Homo sapiens: one gene and its partner. The protein of the gene in region 2 interacts with the protein of the main gene of each other region in a pairwise test. Each region holds a gene or a part of one and is shown on either strand. Other genes may lie near its edges.

What was found. The genes of interacting proteins can lie anywhere in the genome.
Region 1: the proteins of ZNF417 (region 2) and TXNDC11 interact in binary tests that used the Homo sapiens proteins (3 or more experiments, as listed by UniProt).

What each region holds. Positions count from the first base shown.
Region 1 is NC_000016.10:11,683,858-11,687,357, reverse strand, and holds part of TXNDC11 (thioredoxin domain-containing protein 11), read left to right. Parts: intron 1-3,112; coding exon 3,113-3,193; intron 3,194-3,500. UniProt on the Homo sapiens protein: May act as a redox regulator involved in DUOX proteins folding. The interaction with DUOX1 and DUOX2 suggest that it belongs to a multiprotein complex constituting the thyroid H(2)O(2) generating system.
Region 2 is NC_000019.10:57,909,681-57,914,029, reverse strand, and holds part of ZNF417 (zinc finger protein 417), read left to right. Parts: intron 1-1,840; coding exon 1,841-1,970; intron 1,971-3,915; coding exon 3,916-4,349. UniProt on the Homo sapiens protein: May be involved in transcriptional regulation.

The sequences.
Region 1 (3,500 bases), on a different chromosome or scaffold from region 2:
GGCTCAAATACAGAGTCTTTAGATGGGGTAGTAAGCAGTTTTGGGTGAGGAAAACTGTTCACATTTAACCCCCCACCTCCCCCAAAACCCTACAGATAGATAAGAGTTAAATATAAAAAAATCAAAACAAAAAATAGGATTTGCTGATTCCTCTGGGAGATGGAAACTTTCCAAAGTGGAAGCAGTTGGAAAAATAAAGAGAGAAAAATGGACAGATTCCACTAGAAATACGTGCAGTGAAAACAGGGAAAGCAGACAAAAAGGGGGACCATTAATATATTTTCCAGTGTCTCTGTGTCACCTGTTATATGCACTGTAAGTAATAATTAGAATCAAATCTGAGGAGTTACTATGTTGGGAGAGTTTTTGATATACATATTACCTGACTGAGTCCTTGCGACGCTTAGTGAAGGCACTCTAGTTAAAAAAAGAAAGTGCTATTTGTGTTGAGGAGGAAACTGAGACATAGAAAGATTCGACAAGTTGCCCAGAGTTTCAAGCTGCAAATGAGGGGCCAGGATTAAATCAGGCATTCATACTCCAGCCTCCCCGGAAATTAAAATGGTTTAGAAGATGGCTGAGACCGATTCCATTCTGAACAAAGGATGTGAGCAGGTTTTTCTTTTAAGAGGAGAGAGTAAATAAACAAGTGGGGAAATTATAACCTAATAAATGTAAATTAAAACAGTAACAAAGTATCATTTAACATATTAAAGTAATCAGTGGTTTTAAGTGACAGAATCTTGTGTTGATAAAATAAAATGGAAACTGCAGTCAGATGTATCTAATGGAATGAGTACATTGCCATAACTCTTTTGGAAAGCATTTTGGCAACATTTACAAGAAATCAACAAAAACAGTTAACACATTTTTGACCCAGTTAATTTTACTTTGGAGAAGTAATGGAATAGGAATTCCGAAGAAGCATGAGCTCATCATTATAGCATTGTTTACATCCACCAGGAGATGAATGTTTAAGTAAATTATGGCTGGGCATTTAATGGAATTTTTATCCTTCAACAGTGCTTTTCATACAGTTAATGGAAAAGAACAGAGTATGAAATATATGACAACTCTTCTTAAAAATATGTAAGGATATAGGCGAGGTGCAGTGGCTCATGCCTGTAATCCCAGCATGTTGGGAGGCCGAGGTGGGCGGATCACCTGAGGCCAGGAGTTCGAGACCAGCCTGGCCAACATAGTGAAAACCTGTCTCTACTAAAAATAAAAAATTAGCCAAGTGTGGCGGCACGTGCCTGTAGTCCCAACTACTCAGGAGGCTGAGGCAGGAGAATCACTTGAATCCAGCAGCCGGAGGTTACAGGGAGCTGAGATTGCACCACTGCATTCCAGCCTGGGCGACAGAGCAAGACTGTGTCTCAGAAAAAAAAAAGTAAGCATATAGACCAAGCCTGCAGCCTGCATAAGAAAGGGGGGCCTTATTTAGCCCAATGGAATTCTGAGTGGATTTTTACAATGTTTTAATTTTATAGTTTGCTTTCTTTGAAGTAAGAATCAAGTGAGAAAAAGCATTTAATTATGGAATATAGTGTTCACTCCCACTTGTTTAGAAAGGAACACTAATGTTTTAGGTAGGCTGGCACAGGTGAGGCAGGAGTGCTGTTTTGTTAGTAAACTTTTGGTAAATGGTTTTCATTTGGTTATGCCTTTTGTTGCTGTTGTTGTTTTTTGTTTTTGTTTTTTTTTTTGAGATGGAGTCTTGCTCTGTTGCCCAGGCTGGAGTGCAGAGGTGCAATCTCAGCTCACTATAAGCTCCGCCTCCCGGGTTCACGCCATTCTCCTGCCTCAGCCTCCCGAGTAGCTGGGACTACAGGCGCCCGCCATTATGCCCAGCTAATTTTTTGTATTTTTAGTAGAGACGGGTGGCGTTTCACCGCGTTAGCCAGGATGGTCTCGATCACCTGACCTCGTGATCTGCCTGCCTCGGCCTCCTAAAGTGCTGGGATTACAGACGTGAGCCACCACGCCCGGCGTTGTTGTTTTTTTGAGACAGGGTCTCACTCTGTTGCCCAGGCTGGAATGCAGTGGTGCAATCACAGCTCACTGCAGCCCCAACCTCCCAGGTTCAGGTGATTCTCCCACCTTCCCAAGTAGCTGGGACTACAGGCATGTGCCAGAATACCCGGCCAATTTTTTGTAGAGACAGGGTTTCCCCATGTTGCCCAGGCTAGTCTCGAACTCCTGGGCTCAAACAGTCCACCCACCTCGGCCTCCCAAAGTGTTGGATTTACAGGCGTGAGCCCCTGTGCTCAGCCTGGTTGTGCCATTTTTTGAAAAGCAAATTTCATCCTTTTGGACACATACATGACACTTACCGCACCCTCACTCCCCCCAGTTATGCTTTCTAAAAACTTCTGTCAAGGTAAAGATTGAAAACATGTTCATCTTTTGTGTGCACTGTTTATGAATAGTAGCTGAATAGCCCCTCCGCAAGGAGGATGCAGCCCCTTCCATAAAGGATGCTGTTGTGGCTCCATGTCTGCTTAGCCCGAGTGTGGGCGCCCAGCTGTGTGCCCAGCTCTGTGCCAGCTGCCCGGGGCAGGCCTCTAGAGCAGTTGCGGTTAGCTCCCACAGTGATTGAGCACAGGCTGGGTGAGTTAGTACAGATGTCATTTTCTGTATTAGAAAATTAATGTCAAATCTGCTAAGAAAATAGGCTGTTTTTGGTCTCTATCCAGATTTACAACATAAAGAGGGTATAATTTTCCATCTTCAGAGGGGCTTGATGTATTTTGCTCAATGATTTCCTTTCTTTTCCCAGAGCTATTCAGGGATTAAAATACTTGGCTAGATCCTGTCAGGTGAGGAGTGAATGACTCCTCAGGTGTCAGTGCGGCATTTTCTGCAAGTTCATTTTTACTTTCAGGACATCACATTGCCACTCAGTGGAAAGCGTCCACGTAGTAGAATGTTGTATGTCTTGGAAGTATCAGCGCCCAGCTCACACCTGGTAGTACATTCATCGAGAAGGGACTAGCCCAATGTGGGGTGTAAAAAATGCACCAGGTTCTTGAAGTTATCTGAGAAGGTTCTTTCAAGTTGGTGTTTCTTGGGCTGATCATCTGCCATTTCTGTTCTTTCCCTTTACCAGGATTGACGTGTCTCAGAATGACCTTCCTTGGGAATTTATGGTCGATCGTCTTCCTACTGTCTTGTTTTTTCCCTGCAACAGGTAATGCCAAATTTTTGTCACTGGTGGGCAGTTGGGATTCTTTTGTGGAGGTCTGAAAATGAAATGGGTTTAAGATGTAAATCATTCATTATGTTCAAAAAATGTTCCCTTAGGAACCAGGCGTGGTGGCTCATGCCTGTAATCCCAGCACTTTGGGAGGCTGAGGCAGGCAGATTGCTTGAGCTCAAGAGGTTGAGACCAGCCTGGCCGACATGGTGAAACCCCATCAGTACAAAAAATACAAAAATTAGCCAGGCATGGTGACATATGCTTGTAATCCCAGCTACTCTGAGGCTGAGGCACGAGA
Region 2 (4,349 bases):
GTCAGTGACCAATAAATGGTGGCATTAAATGGATAACTAGACATACAGGATGGGGTATCTGGGAGGGTGTTGATACTGGAGACATCCAATATTTGAAAGCTAATGGGTGAACTTCAGTAAGTTAGTTATGGGTCCATTTAGGAGGACATGCTTCAGATTTTGGTGGTAAATCTTTTCAGGGGCCAGGAAGGTGTGACTACAGGCTGAGGAGTGGATCTCTTACTTACGTCCCTGAGTGATGTTATTGGGCTTCCTAAACACCTGAGAGGGTGTGAGTGAACATCATGGCAGGATGTATCAGACAGTAGAGTTTGGAAGGGGACATAGACATCCGAGGAGAGAATAGATGAGATAGATGCATGCAGAAGCATAGGAGTAAGGAAGATGACACTTCTGCCTGAGTTGGTGCCAAGTTGTAACTATTTATCACTGTCTGGATTCATAAACGTTTTGAGATGACTTTGGGAGTGCCTGGAGAGTTTCATTCAGCTTGGTGCATGTGGGCAGTGAAAAATATGCTCATCTGTGATAGTAGATGTGGTTTGGTTCACAAATCCAGGGGCTGGGCTTTAAACAGCATTAGATGGACAGAGGAGGGTTGCTACAGCTGAGGTCTCAGCTGGTGCAGCACAAAAGTGAAATAGGTCCATGGATATCTGAAGCCATATGTGGTTCTGTGTGGCTATGGAGTCATTCCGGGAGACGTTCACAGGATGATTTGGGATTACCACTGCTATTGTAAACCATGGAAATTCTGTGTTAATATTGGATCCTATTTGTATTTGTCAAGCATAGTCTGGATGCTTATCCACATTTTGGTATAAGGCCAGAATTGAAGGCCCAATATGATGTGTCACTTTGACATCTTGTGAAAGTGGGACAACCTTAAAAGGTGTGAGTACAAATCTCATTCCCACTCTGCTCTCTTGAATAATGTATCCTAGCCTAACAGCCCGTTTTATCAAGGTGATAAGGCAGGGTTCCAGGTTGTTATATTTTGTGGTGGGTTTCAATTCCATCCCTACCAGCAGAGTTATGGAAACAAACCATTGCATATTCCCAAGGGAATCATGGGCCGTTATACCCTCTTCATCTTGTGAAATAATTTTATTTGTGGGGGCTGGGTGCAGTGACCCACCCCTGTAATCTCACTTTTGGAGGCCAAGGCGGATGGATCACTTGAGACCAGGAGCTCAAGACCAGCCTGGCCAACATGGTGAAACCCCCTCTCTACCAAAAAAAAAAATACAAAAATTAGCCGGGTATAGTGGTGCGTGGCTGTAATCCCGGCTACTTGGGAGGCTGAGGCACGAGAATCACTTGAACCCAGGAGGCGGAGGCTGCAAAGAGCCAAGATCATGCCACTGCACTCCAGCCTGGGTGACAGAGCTAGACTATGTCTCAAAAAAAACCCCAAAAAACAAAGTTCTATTTGTGGGGATGCCAGAGAGAGGCTGATGGTAGGGAAAACTCAGGTAGGGGTGGCCATGGGGATGTGTCTTTGCAGTATAAAGAATGATGTATATTTAGAGAGGGAGTTTGTCCAATGGGCTCAGGCAGCTGCCCTGGGCTTTACATGAGCTTGGATATCGCTATTCAGAAGGGGATGGACCTTTTTATGTCAGGACCTCAGCATGGATACCTATTTGTCCACTTACTGCTTATTGCTGATGGCAATTGACCAGTGGGCCCATGAAGAGACAAAGGCACTAGTGGACATAGTTTCAACACTATGTTGGGGACCTTGGGAGGAGGATGGGCAAGTGTGGGTGTGTGGGAGAGGTGGGTTGTGGTACCTCAGCAGAGGGGCTGTTTGTGGTTTCATCTGTCACTATCATAGCAGGGCACTGTGACCTTTGAAGATGTGGCTGTGAACTTTTCCCAGGAGGAGTGGTGTCTTCTTAGTGAGGCTCAGAGGTGCTTGTACCGTGATGTGATGCTAGAGAACCTGGCTCTCATATCCTCGCTGGGTAAGTTGCTCACGCTCACCTTTGTGACCTGAGCTAGTGTTACTGTTCCCCTGTTTTTCATTGACAGGACTGTCTTTCTCACTTAAGGAGCCTGGACACAGGTTCCTTCTACACTTCTCTATGTAAGTTGTGTGTATTGCCTTTTCCTTTCCTTAAGCACCTCCAACACCTGCTTTGCTCCAGGCTCCCAGGGAAGGAGTCAGAGTCAGGAGTCTAATAGGCACCTAAGTGTATCCACTTTGCCTGCTCTCTGGCTGTCAGGTGACTGTCCAAATCGGTAGCTCTTGTGTGCCCAGGTTCTATTAACACTTCCTTCCTCTATCTGACAATGCTTTGTGCCTCCCTGTGCCAAGAATTGCCTTCATTGACATTGTCACTACCTACATAGACCATAGACCATAGACTCTTCTTGCAAGACCCTGCTTAGGAATTCTTTTGTAATACTTACCTTACTCTCCTGTGGGCTGTCAGGTGCTTAGTTGTCCTGAGCTAGTGTTGGCTGTTCATCTCTGCTGTCTCTCCCTTCATAGTTACATCGTCGGGTCCTATGTACTGGGTGTGAGATGGAGAGACCTCCATGTTTGACAAGATGTGGTTCAATTCAGGCTCATCACGATAGGCTCAAAGGGAGCCTGTCCCTCAGGAGTGCCATGCTGGGGGAGGGCATGACTTCAGGGGTTTATCCAAATCATACCAGAAACCATTTATATTTGCCAAGTGTTTTTGTGGCAATATGAGTAGGCACACACTATTTGTCTTTTTCTCCCCATTGTTGAGAGTTTCACACGTGTTAGTTCTGTACCTTTTCACTTCTACTGTGATATCCACCCCAGCACTAATACTCACATCTCACCCATTTTTCTTGTGCTTTCATCTGCACTTGTCTCTGATATTGGTGTATCGATTACATATTAGGAAGTGTATGCCCTATGTTAAACCATCCATGACCACCCTCTGCTGTGTTGTACTCATGTTTTCTTGGTCTTGACATATGCTTCTATATTTATATTTTTTGAGATGGAGTTTCGCTCTTGTTGCCCAAGCTGGAGTGCAATGGCACAATCTTGGCTCATTGCAACCTCTGCTTCCCAGGTTGAAGTGATTTTCCTGCCTCAGCCGCCCAAGTAGCTGGGATTACAGGCCTGCACCACCACACCTAGCTAATTTTTTCTTTTTTTAGTAGACACAGGGTTTCACCGTGTTAGCCAGGCTCGTCTCCAACTACTGAACTCAGGTTATCCACTTGCCTCACCCTTGCAAAGTGCTGGGATTACAGGCATGAGCCACCGCGCCCAGTCCATATGCTTCTACATAGCACTCACATGTCATTAGGAGATAAGGTCCCGTACACAACTTGTGTTTAGAGGAAGGAGCTGTGGACCCTGCCTCTACTCCCTGTGTTGCCTGTATGCTTGTGCTCTTTACATCATGAGGCCTCCTGGATTCTGTGACCTTTATAGCCCAGTAATGCTAGGCAGCTCATTCTTCTTTTTATTATTATTATTATTATTTTGAGATGGAGTCTCGCTCTGTTATCCAGGCTGCAGTGCAGTGGTGCGATCATGGCTCAATGCAAACCTCCACCTCCCGGGTTCAAATGATTCTCCTGCCTCAGCCTCCCGAGTGGCTGGGATTACAGGCGCTCACCACCACATCCAGCTAATTTTTGTATTTTTAGTAGAGATGGGTTTTCACCATGTTGGTCACGCTGGTCTCGAACTTCTGACCTCAGGTGATCCACCCGCCTCAGCCTCCCAAAGTGCTGGGATTACAGGCGTGAGCCACTGCGCCCGGCCAGCAGCCCCATCTTCAACTTGAAGCCAACATTGTGTTCCTGCAAATATTTCTATAGATTAATTCCTCAATTTGTGAGACGTACTTGTGGGTGGGCTGTGCCTTCCCGTCAGAGGTACTTTGCACTTGACCAGCATTTTCTTGCTCTCAGGTTGTTGGTGTGGATCAAAAGATGAGGAGGCACCTTGTAAGCAGAGAATTTCTGTACAAAGAGAGTCTCAGAGCAGGACTCCTAGGGCAGGTGTTTCTCCTAAGAAGGCTCACCCCTGTGAAATGTGTGGCCTCATCTTGGAGGATGTTTTTCACTTTGCTGACCACCAGGAAACTCATCACAAGCAGAAGCTGAACAGGAGTGGAGCATGTGGAAAAAACTTGGATGACACTGCATACCTTCATCAGCACCAGAAGCAGCATATTGGAGAGAAATTCTACAGAAAGAGTGTCAGAGAAGCATCGTTTGTAAAGAAACGTAAGCTCAGGGTGTCACAGGAGCCATTTGTCTTCCGCGAGTTTGGGAAGGACGTTCTGCCCAGTTCAGGATTGTGCCAAGAAGCAGCTGCTGTAGAGAAGACAGACAGTGAAACT